Linked DNA regions of Homo sapiens: regions 2, 3, 4 and 5 are each linked to region 1. Evidence: fine-mapped expression QTL. A gene starts in region 1. Each other region holds a variant in brackets. All regions are shown on one strand. Distances are from middle to middle.

Evidence for each region.
Region 2: its variant is fine-mapped to the expression of TCAF2 in whole blood (INTERVAL, PIP 0.95).
Region 3: its variant is fine-mapped to the expression of TCAF2 in whole blood (INTERVAL, PIP 0.96).
Region 4: its variant is fine-mapped to the expression of TCAF2 in whole blood (TOPMed, PIP above 0.99).
Region 5: its variant is fine-mapped to the expression of TCAF2 in whole blood (INTERVAL, PIP 0.93).

What each region holds. Positions count from the first base shown.
Region 1 is chr7:143,618,547-143,622,667 of GRCh38, forward strand. TCAF2 (TRPM8 channel associated factor 2) reads left to right here and starts at 2,428. Exons shown (of 8, transcript NM_001363538.2): 1 at 2,428-2,474. LOC101928466 (a long non-coding RNA gene) reads right to left here and starts at 163. Exons shown (of 4, transcript XR_007060573.1): 1 at 1-163. RefSeq lists a silencer at 2,333-2,492.
Region 2 is chr7:143,768,945-143,773,065 of GRCh38, forward strand. No RefSeq gene overlaps it. Among named protein-coding and RNA genes, the nearest start is that of CTAGE6, 13 kb to the left of the region's middle. The variant GA/G (reference allele first, on the strand shown) is at 1,592.
Region 3 is chr7:143,497,747-143,501,867 of GRCh38, forward strand. All of the region lies in intron 2 of EPHA1-AS1 (EPHA1 antisense RNA 1), which reads left to right. Among named protein-coding and RNA genes, the nearest start is that of TAS2R41, 22 kb to the left of the region's middle. The variant C/T (reference allele first, on the strand shown) is at 2,169.
Region 4 is chr7:143,730,273-143,734,393 of GRCh38, forward strand. It overlaps TCAF2 (TRPM8 channel associated factor 2), which reads left to right. Exons shown (of 8, transcript NM_001363538.2): 8 at 1-138. Among named protein-coding and RNA genes, the nearest start is that of CTAGE6, 25 kb to the right of the region's middle. The variant G/T (reference allele first, on the strand shown) is at 1,823.
Region 5 is chr7:143,777,892-143,782,012 of GRCh38, forward strand. No RefSeq gene overlaps it. Among named protein-coding and RNA genes, the nearest start is that of CTAGE6, 22 kb to the left of the region's middle. The variant T/C (reference allele first, on the strand shown) is at 2,463.

The DNA of each region.
Region 1 (4,121 bases):
TTCTCCCAAGTAAAAGGAAAGATCTGGGGCCTGCACCTTTGCATAAGCAGTAACCATTTCGAAGCTTATCCAACCCACCTTATTTTCGTTGTTGTTGTTGTTGTTCCGTTTTCTTTTATTTTAGGTTTCTAGCTGCCTGAACTCACGGTTTTTAGTTTCTGTCTCTAGTGAAAGGGGAAAAGAGGGATGAGGAAGGGGTTTTACTCGCCTAACCAAAAACAGAAACTAAGAACCCATGACTGTATTCTCTCTCGGACACCCTTTAGTCAGAACGTAAATGCTGGTTACCATCTTTAATCTTTTTTTTCTTCTTTTTTTTTTTTTTTTTTTTTTTTAGGAACCGTTATGCCGTTCCTATGTTGTTAGGTTCCATTCCTCAGGCAGCTCCTGCTCCCAAATGGCAGGTACTTTCTGCTCTCTGACCCTGGAAAAATCACCTTTGTTTAAAGCCCCTTTCTTCTATTAGAGCAACACCAAAATACTCTCAGGAGTTAATTTAGAACAATAGTAGTACTTTACCATGAGGAGTGAGGTTGATGTAGGTGGAGACTGGTTAAAACCTAAGAGTACAAACACACAAAAGATACCGAGCCAGCTTTTTGTTGTTGTTGTTGAGACGGAGTCTCGCTCTGTCGCCCAGGCTGGAGGGCAGTGGCATGATCTCTGCTCACTGCAACATCCGCCTCCCGGGTTCAAGCAATTCTCCTGCCTCAGCCTCCCGAGTAGCTGGGATTACAGGCCTGTGCCACCACGCCCGGCTAATTTTTGTATTTTTAGGAGAGACGGGGTTTCTCCATGTTGGCCAGGCTGGTCTTGAACTCCTGACCTCAGGTGATCCACCCACCTCGGCCTCCCAAAGTGCTGGGATTACAGGAGTGAGCCCCCGCACCCGGGCCTGAATCAGCTTTTAACGTGGAACTTTACTGACCCACTTTCTTTGATGTCCATCTCCCACTTCAGCTCCCAAAGGTCAGTTGTTCCCTGATATGAAGCCTAAGAACTCAACGTACTTCACCGCACGTTGGATTTCTAGCCGGAATTATTCCAAATTCTGGCAAGTCTTATCCACAATTTCTTTTCTGTGTAAGTTTCTCCTTGCTCTTTATTTCTGAAACCTGAATGTATTTGGTCCTCTGCCAATCAGATTTCCACTAGTCCTCCGAAGAGTCAGTTATTAACTCACTAATTCGACAGATATTTTTGGACGTTCACTATATCCTTATTTATTTAGCATATATTTAGTTATTTATTAAGAAACTAAAGCCTATTCTATGTCAGAAATGAAAATAGGCAATGAGGACTCAATGGTGGGCAAAATGCAGACAGACTACTTTTTTCCCCTCATTCTAGCACAGTCATCACTTTCCTAGGTAAGACGTTCCTAAACTCCAGACTACACCAAATCCTCCTCCTGACCACACCCTTCCACCTTGATTTTCACCTTCTGACCTCTCTTGCGTAGAAATTCGAGCACCAGCCACTCTATAGCTTTAGCTTAATTTCTCCAGCCATGCACGGACGAATCTGTGTTAGTGATGCCACAGGCACGTTTCCCTCCCAGCAAGAATATAACTTGCTGGGCAGCATTTCTGTGGATACTTTGAGAGAAAAATGCCCTAGTTGAGCACCCCGCACCATGGCCATAAGCATCCACCGGGCTCGAAGTGCATGGCCCGCAGCTGACCACTAGGGGGCAGCCCTCCACGCAGAGGCTCGAGCGACGGAGGCGACGCGGCGGCTACCGGCTCTGCTGAGCCCACCCCAAGATCGGAGGGAAGGGAGCCTGATTCCACGCGGGGCCTCCCCCGTGGCATACGTTGTTGTTAGGGAACTATTCGCCCCAAATATGGTTTATTGGAGACTTAGGGTTTGCTTTTCTTATCAAGTGCGACAGCAAACTGGCTGGGTCCCCTCTCGCATCCAAGAACCCGCAGAGACCCTGAGGGAGCCGGTTTGGGGCCCCATGCAGGCCAAAGCATCCCTCCGGGAAGGCGGGGTCGCTCACCTGGTAGGCGCCCCGAGAGCCCGCAGCACGGCCCGAGGTGGGGTCCACCGATGGAACGGGAGACCACGGGCGTGGCTCAGGGAGCGGTAGCCGCGCCCCGGGCCCGCCTCAGGGTCGGCTCCGCCTCACCCCAGCCTGTGCCCCGCCTCCGGGACAGCCCAGTTTCCGAGACCTCCTAGCCTCCAAGACAGCCCCGCCGCCAGAACAGCCTCTCCTCCAGGACCGGCCAGCCTACGAGAGAGCCCCGCCTACGGTACAACCCGCCTCCGGGACCGCAGGACTCCACCTCCGAGACAGCTCAGTCCCCAGGACAGTCCCGCCTCCGAGACGGCCCCGCCTCCAGGACGGCCCCTACCTCCGAGACCGCCCCGCCTCCGGGACCGCCCCGCCCCGCCTCGCCTCCGACCCGTCCCCCGCGCGCCACTGCAGAGCCTGTCCGTCAGTCCCTAGGTATCCGCACTGCTCAGGGGTGAGTTTTCCAATCCCAGCGGGTCCTGGGGTGGGGGCGGTAGCTGAGCACCTAGGGCACTGGGGGTCGCCGCAAAGTGCTGGAGGCCCCAGACCATACCCGGCGTCAGGGGGTGTCCCTCCCTTCTTAGGTCTAGGTCTTTGGTTTCATTTCGTTTTGTTAGTCTGGTGCTATTTGCAGTTTGTCTCAAAACACGTTTCTCCCTCCTATTTGAACTTGTAAATTACGAATTTGACAAAGATGTGCATGGTGTGTGCGTGCACGAGGGCACATTTCGTTGCGGAATGCTGGGTCAGCTTTCCGGGACATATTACTCATCTGAGGTTTTTTGTCTGTTTTTGTTTATCCTGTCAAACTGGTACTGCCCCAGAAGTGAAAGACGTCGCTTGTCTTCTGGGAGGTAGCTAGCACGATCTTGAGCTCAGGCTTCCGGATCTCTCTCGGCTGCTTTTTTCCACTGGTAACTTCTGAGGCTGAGATCAGGTACCCGCATTCTCAATGCTCTGCCGAGTATTGGCTCTCTTTTGTGAATTTCTTTCCCGCGAGCAGTATTAAGAAAAAGGTGGCGGATAGGAAGGGAAGAGGGGAAGAGATGGAATTCTACAGGAAATGCAGGGCATGCTCAGAATGCCAACCTTTCCGAGCTTGGAGAGATTTAGTGGAAGAAAGTAGCAGGAAAAACGTCCAGTAATCACTGGCATGCCAGACCCTGGAGAAGCCAGGCTGAGGCGCTCTGCAAGTTTCACCTTAGAGAGAGTGGACGAAATGTAACGGTTCTTGTTAGAGTTCTTGTAGAGGACGATTGTGGATGAGAATACATCCTGGGGACTAAAACCATATTGGTTTAGTCTGGAATGATTGCCAACTAAAGGGACTGATGTTTGAGAGAGATGGTGAGAGATTAACCAAATGAGGTGGTTGACTGCATATAGAAGCAGGAGGGAGAGAGGAAGGAGGCACTTGTGGCTCAAGGGCTTGGTGTGTGTTTTAGTTTAGATTCTGCCCTAAAGCAAAGCCTTATGCAAGGGCTTACCTGCAGGTAATTTTTTGGGGGTAAGTGAGACCAAAAAGCCCAAATGAGGAAGTGGAGAGAATGAGACAAGGAAAAAAGGGAAAGCCAGGAGGAGCATGTGGCTGAGGGTCTTCCACATGGCGCTCCTTTCCTCCGGGTGCCTTCCGAGGACCTCTGATGGGCACCTCGGGAAAGCCACGGGGCACTCTTCTGTGAATCCCCGCTCTACTGGGCGAAGCTCACCCTAGTGTCAACTCACCGCTACTTCAGGGCTGCCTTGTGCACCTGCAGAGGTGAGAAGCCATCAGAGCACAGAGGAAAGTCCCTTACAGTGGGCTCGTCAGAGACGCGCAAAGGGAGGCGGCACAGGCAGCCAGGGGACTACTGCACTACTGCAATCTGCAACGCTGCCCTCGGCAACCCGGGAAACTTAAAAGGACAGCAAAGGGACAGACACTCTCGTTTATTCCGTGCTCACTGTATGTGTACCAACCCCAGACAAGGCATTTTTAGACATATTCTTTGCTTTATTTTATTTTACTTTACTTTATTTTATTTTATTTTATTTTATTTTATTTTTTGAGGCAGAGTCTTGTTCTCTCGCACAGGCTAGAGTCCACTGGTGCGATATCGGC
Region 2 (4,121 bases), 150 kb after region 1:
ATCAAGAGTGAGAATCAGTTTTAGATTCTCATGTTTTTGGAACATTTCAAAAGACTTAATATTCTGGTAAAAAAAGAAATTTATATATTCTGGGATAATGATAAATATATCACTTTGCTACAATTCATCTCGGATTTTTGTCTCCTTTCTTACTGTTTTAGCTTTCCGATTTTGCTTTTGTCTTCATGCTGCACCTCATCTTCCTTCTAAGCTTTCAGACTAAACATTCCGTTCCTTTACCTGTAGAAAAAAAAATGTGGTTGTGGATGTGTTCCTTTTATAGTAAGTGCTGAAAAACTATAAACTTTAAGCCAAAAGGACAATACTTCTTTCAAAACCCTTCCTTTAACAAATCACTTTGCAGAGCATTAAAAAGACCATAAAGAGACAGTACGTTTTCCCCAGCCATTGAAGGTATGATGAATGGTACAACCTGAGAGTGAATGGAAGAGCCACTTTATAAAGTTTAAAGAACCAATACTTGGGCTTAGTTATGGACTTCACACTAACCAGAGATACAAGGCATTTTAGCCGAATGACAGTGGACCGAACTAATCCTATAAAGTGACAAGGGGAAACACTGGGACCCTCCACTGTGACATATCTTGGAGTGAAGGCTTGGCAGGAAGTCAGTCTTGCATAAACATAAAAGCCAAACTCTTTTAGAAAACATATTATCAGAGATGATTTATTTTTATATGAGAATAGTTCTTTTAAAAAATATTTTAGATCTTTTTCTTGAATATAAATATTGATTTACTAATATGACCTGTCTTTTTTCATTCTCTAGACAACAATGATTTCTTAAGAAGAGGCAAATGGAACTCAGAATAAGCAATCATAGAATACAAGCATAGAATAATTTCAATAATTTTTGCATTTGAACACAAAAAATGAGCTACTAAAAGCATAGCCCCCTTCAAGTTGTAATTCAAACACATAACATAATTTGACTTCAATAGGCAAAGCAAATGACACTTACTTGGAAATTTCTAAGGTACTTACAGAAAGTCAAGGAGAGGACTTAAAGTGAAGAAAAAATATGTCTGACTAATAGTGAATAAAATTATTATTGATGCAAAAAGCATTGTTGAATGAAATCTTTTCAGCATCTTAAATATATAATGGTCTAAAGCTTGACCACCTCAAGTTCTTTTTAGAAGCAGGCAGAGGAAAAGAGAGAAAGAATGAATATAAGAACATTTACATCCAGAGTATACAACTCCAGAAGATAGAATTTATTCCTGTTTCATCTTTGTGTGCACTTTTCCCCATGGTTAACCAGTGCATTGCACTAGAAGGCTCAGTGTTTGTTGAATAAATAATCCCAGAAATAACTAGAAAATAGTGCAGAACAGTGAAGAGAGAGCTTAAGTAGAGATCAGGAAAGATACAGCATCTTCTTCCTTTCTTTACTATGTTGAGATACTCTCTGAGCATTGTTTTCCTTATTTGAAAAATGAAGAGTCAAAATGCCTTAAGTACCTTTCAGTTCAGAAATTCTTTGCTTTGAGAGTAAATATACTTAAGATTGAGTGCTAGAATTCAGAATTTTGCAGTGCAAGTTAAAAAATAATTCTATCTTTGGGGA[GA/G]AAAAAAATGGGGTTATATTTTATTTATTTTTTATACTCTGTCAGTAGACTAAAGGGGGTCTTTAATTAGTAAAATTGTACATTTCAATATGTTCATGCTTGCACACAGAAAGGTGCTGAGTACCTGCCATGGCTGTACTGCAATGTCTATTGTAAATGTTAGCTCTTTGGGGGGCAAGCATACCCACATTCATATGGCATTTCCTAAGCCTGTTTTCCTTCTCAGCGTTAAACTCACTGATGCAAACTGCCCAGCTGTGTTTTAATTAAACTTCTACTCCCACTTTCCTTTGGGCTTTTCAATCATATACGCTTCTCTTTCCCCTCTTTTCCCCATAGTCTTCTCTCTCTTTTCCCTAAACTCCCGCCACATAGGCCTGTGGTGAGGAGAGCTGACAATAATGAGGCCCCAGGAACTGGTTCAAAGCCTGCTGTAAAACTTTTTAAATTAAACCCTTGAGATTTTAAGAGTTTGTAATTAGAATGCATGGTTTGAAATGAATTAACATAACCCTGCCATCTAGCTGGCATAACCCAGTGCCCATGAGTCTGCTGATCTCTGGGTGCTTAAGCCCTGGCAGAGCAGACTGTTTCTAACCATTGACCATCCTGTCCCAAAAGTGGGCAATGTCTTCTTTGAACCTTTTGGGAAGTGTCCCAAATTCTCCTCCTATTGAACTGTTAGAATGTGCTTAATTTTCCACTGTAAGAATAGGTTGCTTTGATGAGTATCTATTGGGATAAGTTTTTGCCTTTGTGAAATTTCTTCAAAATAGATTCCCAGAAGTAGGATTAGAGTGGGAAGGGTAGAAATATATTAAGGGCTCATCATAGATGCCAAATCCCTTTCTTTTCACTCATCCATACAAACAAATACTTATTGAGCACCTGCTGTGTACCAGGTACTCTTCTAGGTGCTGAAATTTGGTTGTGAACGAGATAGGTGAAGTTTCTGATATCGTGGAATACTACTTTACTGGTTAAGGAAGACAATCAATAAGTGGGCAAAAAATACATAATATAATTATAAATGGTAACAAAAGCTATAAAAACATATAAAATGGAACGATAGAGAATAGGGGTTGGCTTCTGTCCTTTTGCAGTCCATACAATTTATCAGGAAAATTGGTCAGCTTTTCCTTCTAAGTACGTAGAGAACTTAATATCTTCTCTACCTCTGTATTGTTATCTCCCTAATCCAGGTCACCATCATCCTTTGCTTGGACTTTTGCAAGAGTTTCTTAATTGATCTTCCTGCTACCATATTACCCCCCATAGTCTGTTCTCCCCACAGCAGTCAGAATGATTCTTTTAAAGTGTAAGTCAAGTCATATAACTCAGCTGCAGAACACTTCCAATAGCTCCCTTCTCTCTCAGTGTAAAATCTGTCATTTCCATGGCTTGTAGAAGAATCTGCGGCCTGGACACTGCTGCTTCTCTAAACTCATCTCTACCATTCCCCTCCCCAGCTGCAATCCTTTCAAATTTCAAGCATGACACTTCCTCAGTGACTTTGCACTTGCTGTACCCTCTGTTTGGAATATGGTTTCCCCATATATATCTCACTCCTTCAGTTCTTTGCTCAAATATTACCTTTTCATAGAAATAGTCATTAACCATCCCAAATAAAATAGTGTGGCATTCCCATGTCTCTCTTTATCCTACTTTCTTTCTCTTCATGGCACTTATCGTCACTTGACATATTTATTTGTATATTTTATTGACTGTTTTTACCCACTAAAATAGAAACTTCATAGATCAAATACTTTATCTGTGCTGTTCACTGCTATATCCCCAGTATCTAAATTGATACCTGGCACATAGGTAATGGCTCAATATTTGTTAAATTAATGAAGAAATTAATGACTTTGTTTGAACCTGGTGAGAGATTTCTTGGAATATGCTGTGAGTCTAGACCATGTGTCCTATCCAAGTTGTTTTTAATTTTTATCAATGTCATGGATCAAGAAATAGTAGAGGCCCAACAAACTATATGCTGTCTTGGAGTCCAGCAGTGCTGGAGCTGGGGCTCAAGAGAAGTGCAGGCTGTGTCCCCAAGATCTAGGCGTGAGTGACCCTGGGCTATCACACCTGGGGCTAAGGTGCAGTGCTGCTGGGACTGAGGTGCAAGTGGTGCACACATTCCCCATCCATTGGCCTATGCTGTTGCCAATGAAGGCAGAACTACCCTCCCCAGTGGCAGGATAACAGCACAGTTGTTTCTTCCCCCAGTGCAAGCATTCCACCAGTGGCCTGCGGATCACCCAACCCCTTTGTACCTTGGGTGGCTCCTCCACACGCCACTGGAGGCCTGAGGACAAGCTCATCTGACCCAGATTTACCCCCTCTCCATAAAAGAGCACATAGTCTAGGGGCCAGGGGATTTCCCAACTTGGTTCACCACCATCGGAACCTAAACACTCCTCCCAGGGGCCTACTCACCAAAATGAGAATACCACAACTGGCACTTATCTGCATGTGCCGCCTGCAAGCCTAAAGACTGGCCCATGCAGCCCATTGCAGCCACCA
Region 3 (4,121 bases), 120 kb before region 1:
TGGGGATCAGGAAAGTATTTCCACCTTTGGCCTCTTCTTATCCTATCTCTTCATCCTCAGGGCCTCAGTCCCTTGGAGGGCTGTTTAGAACACATATATTTGAATGTCTGCTTCTTCTACCTTTCTCTTCCTTTATTTATTCCCAAGTCTGTGTCAGAAAGAGAAGGTTTTGCCCTCTCATGAAATGGAAGATTTCCCTTATGTCATATCCTGAGTTCCCTAGTTTATCAAAATCTCAGTGTTCAAATCCAAAGGTTGTGGGTTTTGATGTAGGTGCCTCAGGGCTTCAGAAATTTGGAATTAATAAAGAAAATATAGATTGATCTGTTTTTCTCTAAGTGTTATCCTTGTGCCTGCAATTCTCCATATGGTGTCCATCTTGGACAGAGAATTGGGCATCTCTTCTCTTCATTATTCAGCTCGTCCTGCTGAAACGCAGCCAGGACAGGGCACACCGCAGCACCAAGCAGCTACAAGGTAATCAGATTCTGAGCACTAAACCCAAGGCACATGGAATATTTTCCTTTTCTTTTTCTTATTTTATTTTATTTTATTTTATTTTATTTTATTTTATTTTTTTGAGATAGAGTCTTACTCTGTCAACCAGGCTGGAATGCAGTGATACAATATTGGCTCACTGCAGCCTCCACCTCCTGGGTTCAAGTGATTTTCCTGCCTCAGCCTCCAAGTAGTTGGGACTACAGGCACCCGCCACCATGCCTGGATAATTTGTGTATATTTGGTAGAGATGGGGTTTCATCATGTTGGCCATGCTGGTCTTGAACTCCTGACCTCAGGTGATCGGCCCACCTTGGCCTCCCAAAGTGCTAGGATTACAGGCTTGAGCCACCGCACCTGGCCGATGTGGAATATTTTTCTAAAGCAGCCTATTTGATTCTTTTTGAAAGGCCCTTCTCAGTTTCCCCAGCCTGATACGGGCTCGGCTGTAAAGATGGGACAGAATCTGTGTCATGTCTCAGGAGTGAGGAAAAGAAAATGTTATTCTGTCACATTCAGAACAGTTCTACAAGGTGGACACAGACTGGGCCAGAGGTAGACAACTGGTAAAGAGCCAGCCAAGATGAAAATTGGGATATACCCGATGTCAAATTTCAAATATTGGGCATTTTTCACTAGACCATGCTGCCTCTCACATTCCTTTCTAAAAGAAACTGGTTGCAAACGGCCAGGTGCAGTGGCTCACGCCTGTAATCCCAGCACTTTGGGAGGCCAAGGTAGGCAGATCACGAGGTCAGGAGATGGAGACCATCCTGGCTAACATGGTGAAACCCCGTCTCTATTAAAAATACAAAAAATTAGCTGGGTATGGAGGTACGAACCTGCTGTAGTCCCAGCTACTTGGGAGGCTGAGGCAGGAGAATCACTTGAAGCCGGGAGGTGGAGGTTGCAGCGACCTGAGATCATGCCACTGCACTCCAGCCTGGGAGACAGAGTGAGACTCCATCTCAAAAAAAAAAAAAAAAAAAGTGGTTGCAATGGAAGAAGGCAAAGGTCTCTTTATGCTCTGGCATTGTGGAATTCCACACAGAGGTTTGCAAAAGCAGAAGCAGTGTCTTTCTGCTGTCAAGATCTTTTCCATGACTGAATTAAGCAAAATGACGTGTCTTAATACTCAAAAGGAGCAGAGAAAAGAGTTCTGGCTGGGTGTTTCCTGCTCTTTAGATAGAGTTTGCTTCCTGGCCTTGAGTTAAGGAAGCTGACTCGTTTTTATTTCTAGAGCCTTCTGGCTCCCCTCCAGGCCTAAGCATTTGCCTCAATTTTTCCCTAACAGTTTGGACCTGGTTATAGGCTGAATAATGGCCCTGCACATGTGTCCACCTTCTGTCCTAATCTCCCAAGTCTATGACTGTTATCTTCTATGGCAAAAGGGATTTTTGCAGGGGTGATTAAGTATTTTGAGATGAGGAGATTATCCTGGGTTAGCCAGGTTTGCCCAATATAATCACAAGGGTCTTTAGAGAGAGAGGCAGGAACACCAGCATCAGATCTTTCTGCCTCCGTCTTCTCTTTAGGGCCAAGCCCATATCAAGCTGGGGAAACCGTGAAGGGCCTTTTACAAAGAATCGAACAGGCTGCTTTAGAAAACTACTCCACATGCCTTCTGTTTAATGCTCACAATCTGATTATGTTGTAGCTGCTTGGTGCTG[C/T]GGTGTGCCCTATCCTGGCTGCATTTCTTCATTCCCTCCCCTGCCCACATACATCCACAGCCCCAGTCGGCTGTATCCATGAAGAGCTGAATGGAACAGGATGACTGGCAGCCCACGCCAAAGGCCAAGAGATGTGAAGGTAGAAGCAAGAAGTTAGAATGACCTGAGGAAGAGGTCACAAGCCCAGGAATGCCAGCAGCCACTAAAAGCTGAAAAAAGGCAAGGAAATGAGTTTTCCTCTGAAGCTGCCAGAAGGAACAAGCCCAGCCAATGCCTTGACCCTAGCCCAGTAAAATTGATTTTGAACTTCCGACTTCCAGAACTGTGAGAGAATACATTTACGTTGTTTTAAGCCACAAATATGTGGCAATTTGTTACAGCAGCAATGGGAAACTAACACAGATTCTAATCTCTTTTCTTACTCCCATCCCAGGTTGCCCTGGGGTTAATTCATGATTAAAGATCCTCCAGCTTTGTTCTCTATACTTTCTCTTGTCTTCTTGAGTCTGATCTCCTTCTTGCTCTCCAAGTGCTTCCCCCACTGCACATCAACAAGAACATTTCTGCTTCTTACCTGTCTCTGTCCCCTGCTCTAACCCATGAGGAGTCAGAAGCAGTCTAGTGGGGGCCAGGCAGGGGAGGGAGGTGAGGAAGCTAGGAAGGTTAGAGAAGAGAGAAGAAGCCAACATTCCCCACTTTAAGCTTTTGGGGTTGGGAGTCAGAAGAAGCTTTATCTTAAAACAAGGTTTAGAGGTTTGATTTTACCTTGGGCTGGATATTTTTAAGACTGCAGTGAGAATGTTTTGGGGACTTAAGGCGAATGAAAACGTTTTGATTTTTTGGGAGGAACTAGAACATTCATGCTACTTGTTATGGATTTAGTCCAAGGCACAGAGAAGGACTAGCCCCATAGTGCAGGTTTGAGTGTATGGAGATGAGAAAGAACACAGCACTTTTCTGATTACAGTTTGTGAATTCAGCTTGTTCAGTAAACCAGTTCCCCTTAGTTTCTACAATAGATTTGAGATCTTGTGGTCTGGGACCTGGGAATTCCATCGTGGCTGTGATATTTTCGCAAGATTTTCAAATCTTTTTCAGTATCACATGCACTCTGTGTAGCGGAGGTTGTTTCATCTACTTAGCCCACCAAGACCCCTCTGGAGGCTGCATAGCCTGGTGGCTAAAGGTGTAGGTTCTAGACCCTGAATGTGCAAGTCTGAATCTTTGTTCCTACCTTGTGCCTTTGCAGCAATGGGCAAGTTAAAGTCTCTACTGCCTCAGTTTCTTCTGATGTAAAATGGGGAGGATGGTAATACCTGACTCACGGGCTTTTGTGAAGATCAAATGAGACGATCCATGCAGAGCACTTAGCACAGTGTCCAGTCCATGATAAGCCCTCAGTGAATAGTAGATATTTTTATGTTGAAATGCTTTGAAGAGTTTAGAAGAAAGGTGCCAGTCAAGCCAATGCTAGAAACAGAGATTAATTTTTATTTCCTCACACATTTACTTCTATCCTGCTGTGCCTTGTAAACTGAACATTTTCATATTTTTCTCCTTCGCAAAATACAAACTGTTCCAACAGTTCTCTGCCTCAAACCTGAAGTGTTTTATGCCATCCTTGGTAGGTTGTGAGAGATATTTTGGAAGCACCTTTTTAGAAGCTCTGTTAATTGAAACTATTCCTCAAGCTTTGCAATAAATGCAGAAAGTTTCAGTGCTCCCTCACATCCTGGAAGCTGACTGTAGCCTGTAGAGGGCTACTGGGTTAAGCCCTCTACAAAGGTGACGATAGAGTCCAGTTCAGGAAGCCATCTTCTGGCCAGGTAGGGTGGACATGGGCACACTGGAGCCAGAGGGAGGTCAAAAGAGGGTAGTGAGTGTAGGGGCCAGAAATGATTATCCAAGAGTAAATTGAGGTCCAGAAGCTGTTCAGAGGCACAGGAGCCCTTT
Region 4 (4,121 bases), 110 kb after region 1:
TTTCCTGACTTTTTAATGATCGCCATTCTAACTGGCATGAGATGGTACCCCATTGTGGTTTTGATTTACATTTCCCTAATGACCAGTAATGATGAGCTTTTTTTCATGTTTATTGGCCACATAAATGTCTTCTTTTGAGAAGTGTCTGTTCATATCCTTTGCCCACTTTTTGATGTGTTTTTGTTGTTGTTGTAAATTTGTTTAAGTCCCTTGCAGATTCTGGATATCAGAACTTGTCAGATGGGTAGCTTGCAAAAATTTTCTCCCATTCTGTAGGTTGCAGAACTGGTGTTCTCAACAGTGATGTTAGGGTAAAATGATGGATACTGCTGGGTTTAATAGATTGCCCTAGAAACAGAGACAATGTCTGGCTTCTTACACACACACACACTTCCTGGTAGAAGTTGGAGCCTGTAGCTCCTTGTCTCTCATACAGAGAGACTGTGACTTTGCCTCTTGTTTTTAAGTTGATAGTTAATTGTAACTGCAGTATTCTCAGATTCTTTTGTCTATTCACAGAAACTAATTTGCTGCCAGTGATAGGGATGATCCATGATTTCTGAGACATTTACTTCCATAATTTCACAGTTCTAAGTCTAGAAAAATTATTAGAAGAAAATTATTGGATGGTCTTGGAACCAACCCAAAGAAAAAAACATGTCCTGTGAACAGTAGGATAGATACTGAATGTAGCTTGTCTCACTTTGGAACTAGTGCTTATAATTTCCCTTGGACTGTATATTTTTGTCCAATCACTACTGTACAGGACATGGGTTTGGTTTGCTTTTCCCTCCCATGAGCCACTCAATTGCTTTGCTAAAAGCCCCATCAGTTTTCCTTTGGTTTCCTTTGGTACACCAACATCAACACAGAGTCCACTTGGTTTGGAAGGGGTTGGCCCACACTGTTGGCAGGAGTGGGCACAGAATCCATGCTCATCTAATTGTCCATACCTTCCAACAAGGATTGGTTCAAGTGATGGGAAGGTGGCCCTTGCCAGGGTGATGAAGTGCATACGACAGACTTTTACTGGCTGTACTGGGAAGCATACATTTTCTTTGGTACTGGAGAATTGGTAATGACAGTGCCAAATGTTGTTTGTTATTGAAGCTAAGTGAAGGGGCTCTTGAAGGATCCTTATTCAACTTTTGCCTATGTTTAGAAATTTTGTAGTAAAATTGTAATGGTGTAAGTCTACTATTTATACCTATAGAAGTAAAAGACTTTTGCCAGGTGCAGTGGTTCACGCCTGTAATCCCAACACTTTGGCAGGCCGAGGCGGGTGGATCACGAGGTCAGGAGTTCGAGACCAGCCTGGCCAATATGGTGAAACCACATCTCTACTAAAAAAAATGCAGAATTAGCTGGGTGCAGTGGCTCATGCCTGTAGTCCCAGCTACTCAGGAGGCTGAGGCAGGAGAATCGCTGGAGGTTGCAGTGAGCTGAGATCGCGCCACTGCACTGTAGCCTGGACAATAGAGTGAGACTCCGTCCAAAAAAAAGAAAAAAGAAAAGAAAAAAAGAGAAGTAGAAGACTTGTTTTTTTTAAGTTTTGAAACAATTTCTTAGGGAGAGTAGGATTGAAAGAGTAGAGAAACAGGGGAGATAAAGACAGAGTAGGGTTTGGGCAGATTCCTGTTGTTTTTCTTATAAGCTCTTTGTTAGTAATTTAATATTGTATTTCTACCACATATGTTTTCTACCCTATGCAAGCATGACACCTTTTAAACAAGATAGATATAAACTGTATTAAAATTTACAACACAGCTTGCATGCCAACATAGTCTTCCATGATTTGGTCTCTGCGAGTGTTTCCAGATTT[G/T]CCTCCCACCTCTATCCCTTGCTTTCTTTATTCCAGCTGTGATGCACACATTTCAGCGTGAATGCGGCCCTCCTTCTCATTTCTACAGATTGTTCTGTGCTCCTGGGTCATTCCTTTCTTCCACCTGTCCTTCCCTCCACTTCACAATAGAATAGAGAAGTTTCTGATGTTTGGGCTTCCTTTTGGGTAGAACAACAACAAAAGTCAACTAGAAAAATGTCCTTTTTTAGAGTTATATTTTCAGAGTGAGGACTCATTTATCATTTATATTTATCATAAGAAATTAAAACATTTTCACTTTTTGTTTTTTCCTGTTAAATCTTTAAGTATCTTTAACCAGGACTTAATTAAACTTGAATGGTCTGCAATCTTTTTCAAATGTGAATAATTTCAATGTATATTTTCTCCATTTGCTAAATTTGGTAAAATAGTGTTTAGTGTTGTATTTTTAATAAAACAAAACCTGCCCTGTGGAGAAGGGACACACTTTGTGGACGTGCCATTTGGGTCACACACAAAGGTGGGCCACTGGGGTGCCACCACTGAGCCAGCCAGGATAGCAAGAGCGACATTCTCTAATTCACACAGAGGCATTTTATGAGCTAGTGGTGGCCTTGGAGAAGGGACGGCACTTCTCTATATTACTTTGGATTGGGGTATCAGTATTTTTAAGGTTTTCTTTTTTTCTTCAGCTCTTAACCCAGAGGTCATTTCCTCGAGCCGTGTCTCTAAGCCTCATGTTCCGATAAAACCTGTAACTTCCTTTATATATCAGTCATCACATTTGTAATTATTTGTTTAAAATCTCTCTTTCCCACTACATGGAAGCTTCATAGGGGCAGGGACTAGACCTACCCTATTCACAGCTGTATCTACAGCCCCAAGGGCAGGGCCTGTCACATATCAGTTTTGGTGTAGGGGTCTATTGTATTAACACATTACTAACAAGAGTGTATGATAATGGGAGAAGACTAGATGAGGATTTCCAACTATTGTATATGTTTGCTGTCTTTAGGCGGATCACCTGAGGTCTGGCGTTCCACACCAGCCTGGCCAACATGACAAAACCCTGTCTCTACTGAAAATACAAAAATTAACTGGGTGTGGTGGCACATGCCTGTAATTCCAGCTACTTGGGAATCTGAGGCAGGAGAATCACTTGAATCCGGGAGGCGGAGGTTGCCCTGAGCTGAGATCGTGCCACTGCACTCCAACCTGGGCAAAAGAGTGAGACTCTGTCTCAAAAAAAAAAAAAAGAAAAGAAAAAGAAAGAAGAAGAAGAAGAAAAGACCTCTGTTATTTATCCCTATTCAAGAAAATGGTTTCACTATTCCAGAAAGAAGCTTTAGTGTGATTAGAACCATTCTCCTATTTTTAGCTTCTGAAAACAGGCTGCACTGTGAGAGTGAATTTTCCATTAATTCTTATTTCTCCTTTTCCTTGGGACTTGGTCAGTGAATAGTATAAGCTATTTTCAGGAGTTTCTGTATTTTGGTGAAAAAAGTATTTATCTGACATTTCCTGGGCCCTATTTCTACTACATTTCGATGTCAATTCCTCTCCTCTGCTAACATTTCCAGCCAAAGTTAACTACAGTGTAGATACTTTCATTTTGAATTAACATTTTTCCTGTTCTGCCATGTTATTAGGTTCTGGAACAGGGATATATCCCACAATAACAGTAATGACAAATTAAGACCCCCCTAAAAAAAATTCAAATTATTTTATATGGCCTCCCAGCTCCAAAACAAGGCAGCTGAGATGCCTATACATGGCACCTTCATACCGGTACATCTATCTGTTAGTCTCCATTTCTGTAGAAGAAAACAAAAAGATGCTATTAGCCTACTTCAAATTGTTGTTCCACTTTTGAATCTAACCTAGTTTCCTATGATAAGTTATTTCTTCAGGCCCCTAGGCTGTCTTCACCAGAAACTTTGAAATAGAAACCAGACCTTTCTGAGTATTGCTCAGGTACATCTCTGATACACTGATTCATCTAAGATCAAAAGTGCCCCCCGCTAATATGGCCTCAGCAGCACGTAGCTAGCACATGAACAGCAGGTCAGCCAAGACGTTAAATGTGGTCAAGGTTTCCAAAGAAGGAGAGCTACTTTTCAGTCAATGCTATCTCCTTATAGGCATGGCATGATTGCGTTTCTCAGGATATTATTTTCATGAACTTGTTCCTGCTGCAAGGTCTTTAGTACCATGCCTGGCTTCCATTTTGAAAAGCCTTCTTGTGCAAGATTGGTGCACTTCCCAGTTCTGGTAGGAGGACAGTTTGGTCCCGTACTCA
Region 5 (4,121 bases), 160 kb after region 1:
AACTATATGATCATTTCAATAGATGCAGAAAAGGCATTTGATAAAATTCAACATCATTTCATTATAAAAACTCTCAACAAACTAGGTATAGAGGGAACATACCTCAAAATAATAAAGGCCATATATATGACAAACCCACAGCCAACATCATACTGAATGGCAAAAAGTTGAAAACCTTTTCTCTAAGAACTAGAACAAGACAAGGATGCTCACTTTCACTACTCCTATTCAACATAATGCTAAAAATACTATTTCCCCTAGACAGAGAAATCAGACAAGAGTAAAAAATAAAAGGCATTCAAATTGGAAAAGAGGGAGTCAAATTGTCTCTCTTTGCACATGAAATAATCTTATATTTAGAAAAAAAAGATTCCACCTAAAAATGATAAGCAAATTCAATAAAGTTGAAAAATATAAAATCAACATATAAAAATCAGTAGCATTTCTATAACCAATAATAAAACAGCCAAAAGAGAAATCAAGAAGACAATCCCATTTACAATTGCTACCAAAAAAAAAATACCTAGGAATAAATTTAACCAAGCAGGTAAAAGATCTCTACAAGAAAAACTGTAAAACACTGTTAAAATGAATTAAAGAAGACATAAACAAATAGACATCCCATGCTCATGGATCAGAAGAATCAATATTGTCAAAATGACCAATGAAATATCCAGATTCAATAAAATCCTTATTAAAATACCAATGTCATTTTTTACAGAAATAGAAAACAAAATTCTAAAATTCATATGGAATAAAAAAAGAGCCAGTATAACCAAAACAATCCTGAGCAAAAAGTACAAAGCAGAAGGCATCACACTACTTGACTTCAAAATATAGTACAAGGTTATAGTAACCAAAAAGCATGGTATTGACATAGAAATAGACACAGAAACTAATGGAAGAGAATAGAAAACCCAAAAATAACTCTACATATTTACAGCCAACAGACTTTCAACAAAGTTGCCCAGAACATACACTGAGGAAAGGATACCTTCTTTAATAAATAGTGCTGAAAAAAATGGGATATTCACATGCAGAAGAATGAAACTGGACCCTTATCTTCCACCTTATATAAAAATCAATTCAAAATGGATCAAAAACTTAAAAGTAAGACCTTAAACTATAAAACCACTAGAAGAAAACAAAGGGAAAATACTCCAGGATATTTGTTTAGGCAAAGATTTTATGGCTGAGACCTCAAAAGCAGAGAAAACTAACACAAAAATAGACAAATAGCACTATAGTAAACTAAAAAAGTTTTTGCACAGTGAAAGAAACAATTAACAAAGTGAAGAGACAAACTGTTGAATGGGAGGAAGTAGTTGCAAACTATTCATCCAACCAGGGACTAATATCCAGAATATGCAAGGAATACAAACAACTCAACAATAAAAAAAAACAAATAATTCAATTAAAAAGTGGGCAAATGACATGAATAGACAATTTTCAAAGGAAGACACACAAAAGCCAACAAGCATATTAAAAAATGCTCAACATCTCTAATCATCAGAGAAATGCAAATCAAAACCATGATGAGATATTATCTCATCCTAATGAGAATGGTTATTCCTAAAAAGACAAAAAATAAATAAATAAAAACAGATGCTGGCAAGGATGTATAGAAAAGGGAATACTTAACAATCGCAAAGGTATGGACTCAATCTAAGTGTTCATCAGTGGGTGAATGGATAAAGAAAATGTGGTATATATACACAATGAAATACTATTTGTTCATAAGAAAGAATGAAATCATGTCATCTGCAGCAACATGGATGGAAATAAAGGTCATTATGTCAGGTGAAATAATCCAGGCACAGAAAGACAAATACCACATGTTCTTACTCATATGTAGGAACTAAAAACCTTGATCTCCTGGAGGTAGACAATAGACGGGTAGATATGACACCAGAGTTTGGGAGGGTGTGAGAGTGGGCGGAGGGAGAAAGGAAAAGAGGTTCATGAAGAAGCACAAACTTACAGTTAGATAGAGGAAATAAGTTCTAATTTTCAATAGCAGACTAGGATGACTATAGTTAACAACAACATATTGTATATTTCAAAGTAGCTAGAAGAAAGAACTTGAAATGTTACCAACATGCAGAAATGACAAATACTCAGTATGATGGATACCCCAAATACCCTGACTTGATGTTACATGTTCGATGCACATTAAAAATGCTCACATGTACCCCCATAAATGTGCAAAACACTATGTACCAATAAAAGGAAAAAAGAAATAGTAGAGGGTCTCACAAGCATTGTATACATGATTTGTTAGCAGAATCATGTTCGGCAATGCTTTTCAAACCGCAGGTCACTAACAATCAGTAGTCTGTGAAGGTAGTTTAGCAGGTTGTGATCAGCTTCTTGTTAACAAAAGAGAATTCATCCAGGCTGGAACAAAATAGAATTGAATTGAAAAAAATACTTTCTCACATGTAATATGGCTGAGTGTTGTT[T/C]TGTGAAAGTTCGTTTTAATTATATGTAAATGGGCTTTTTGAGCACATAATGAAATATGATATAAAAAGTATTTGTTATTATAGGTCACAGTGTTTTAAAAAAAAACAATGGCCTACAATATTGATTCTCAGGAATCCACCCAAAATTTCCAGGAAATAAAAATACCAGAAGAAAACAATGAACTGGAAAAACAATGAAAGAGAAGCAAAGAGAGAACCAATGACCAAAGAGTTGTTCCTTTGAAAAAAGTCCATAAATTAATAGTGACTAGCCATATCGGCCAAGATAAAAAGAGAGAAGACACAAATTATCAATTTTAGGAATGAAGGTTAGAAAATTATTTCAGATCCTTCCTAGTCATTTATAAACATAAAAATAAATCATACATGTGTCATACATGACACAGCAGCAATACTCACTGAAGAAGAAATAGGTATCTTGAATAAGCTACTATACATTAAAGAAATTGAATTTGTGGCTTAAAATTCTCAAAGAAAAATCTTCAAGTCCAGCTGGCTGTACTAACACGTTTTTCCTAACATTTCAGAAAAATGTAATATAATTATACACAATTTTTTCCATAAGATAAAACGGGAGGGAATGACACCCAGCTCATTTTATAAACTCAGCATTACCTGATATTAAAAACAAAGACATTATAAGAAAACTACAGACGAAATATCCCTCACAGCATAGATATGAAAATATTCAATCGAATGCTAGCACTTACAATCCAACAATATGTAAAAAAAAGATAATATATCATTACCAAGTGAGGTTTATTTCATCGTGAAAAGATAGTTAAGCATTCAAAAGTTAATTAAATTAGTTCACCACATCAGTAGACAAAAGAAGAAAAACATTGCTCATCTCAAAAGATGCAGAAAATCACTGGACAAAATTTGAAATCCAACCATAACAAAAATTCTCATCAATTAATAATAGAAAGGAACTTCCTCAAACTGAGGGAGAGTATCTACAAAATGGGCTGCTAACATCAGAGTTAATGCTAAAAGACCAAATGTTTTGCCCCTAAGATCAGGAATAAGGACGAGAAGTCCATTCTTACCACTCTTTTTAGACACACTGAAAATTCTAAGTGCAATAAGAGAAGAAATTCAAAAAAAAAAAAAAGACCTACAGATTAGAAGAAGTAAAAATGTTTCTCTTTGCAGATGACATGATTGTATGTTTAGAAAATTGTAAGAATCTACAAGAAAGGTATTAGAACTAATTAGTAAATTTAGCAAGGTCAATAGTTAGAAGGCCAATGTATATTTAATACACAAAATCACATTTCTGTCTACATTCTATATACTACCAGTAGAAACTGAAAATTTTCAAGCAGTGCTATTATAATAATAAGAAAAATAAGAAACACTTTGGTATAAATTTAACAAAATATGTTTATACAAGTGTACAATCTGCATATTGAAAACTCCAAAACGCCAGTGAAAGAAATCAAAGGCCTAAACAAATACAAGATGTTCGTTATTCAAGATTTGCAAGTCTCAACATTGTTATATTAATTTATTAACGTTAATCATAAATTAACCTTCCATAGATTCCATGCAATCTTACAAAAAATCCCAGCAATATTCTTTTTGGAGAAATTGACAAGTTAATTCTAAAATTTTTATGGAAAAAAATCAAAGGAA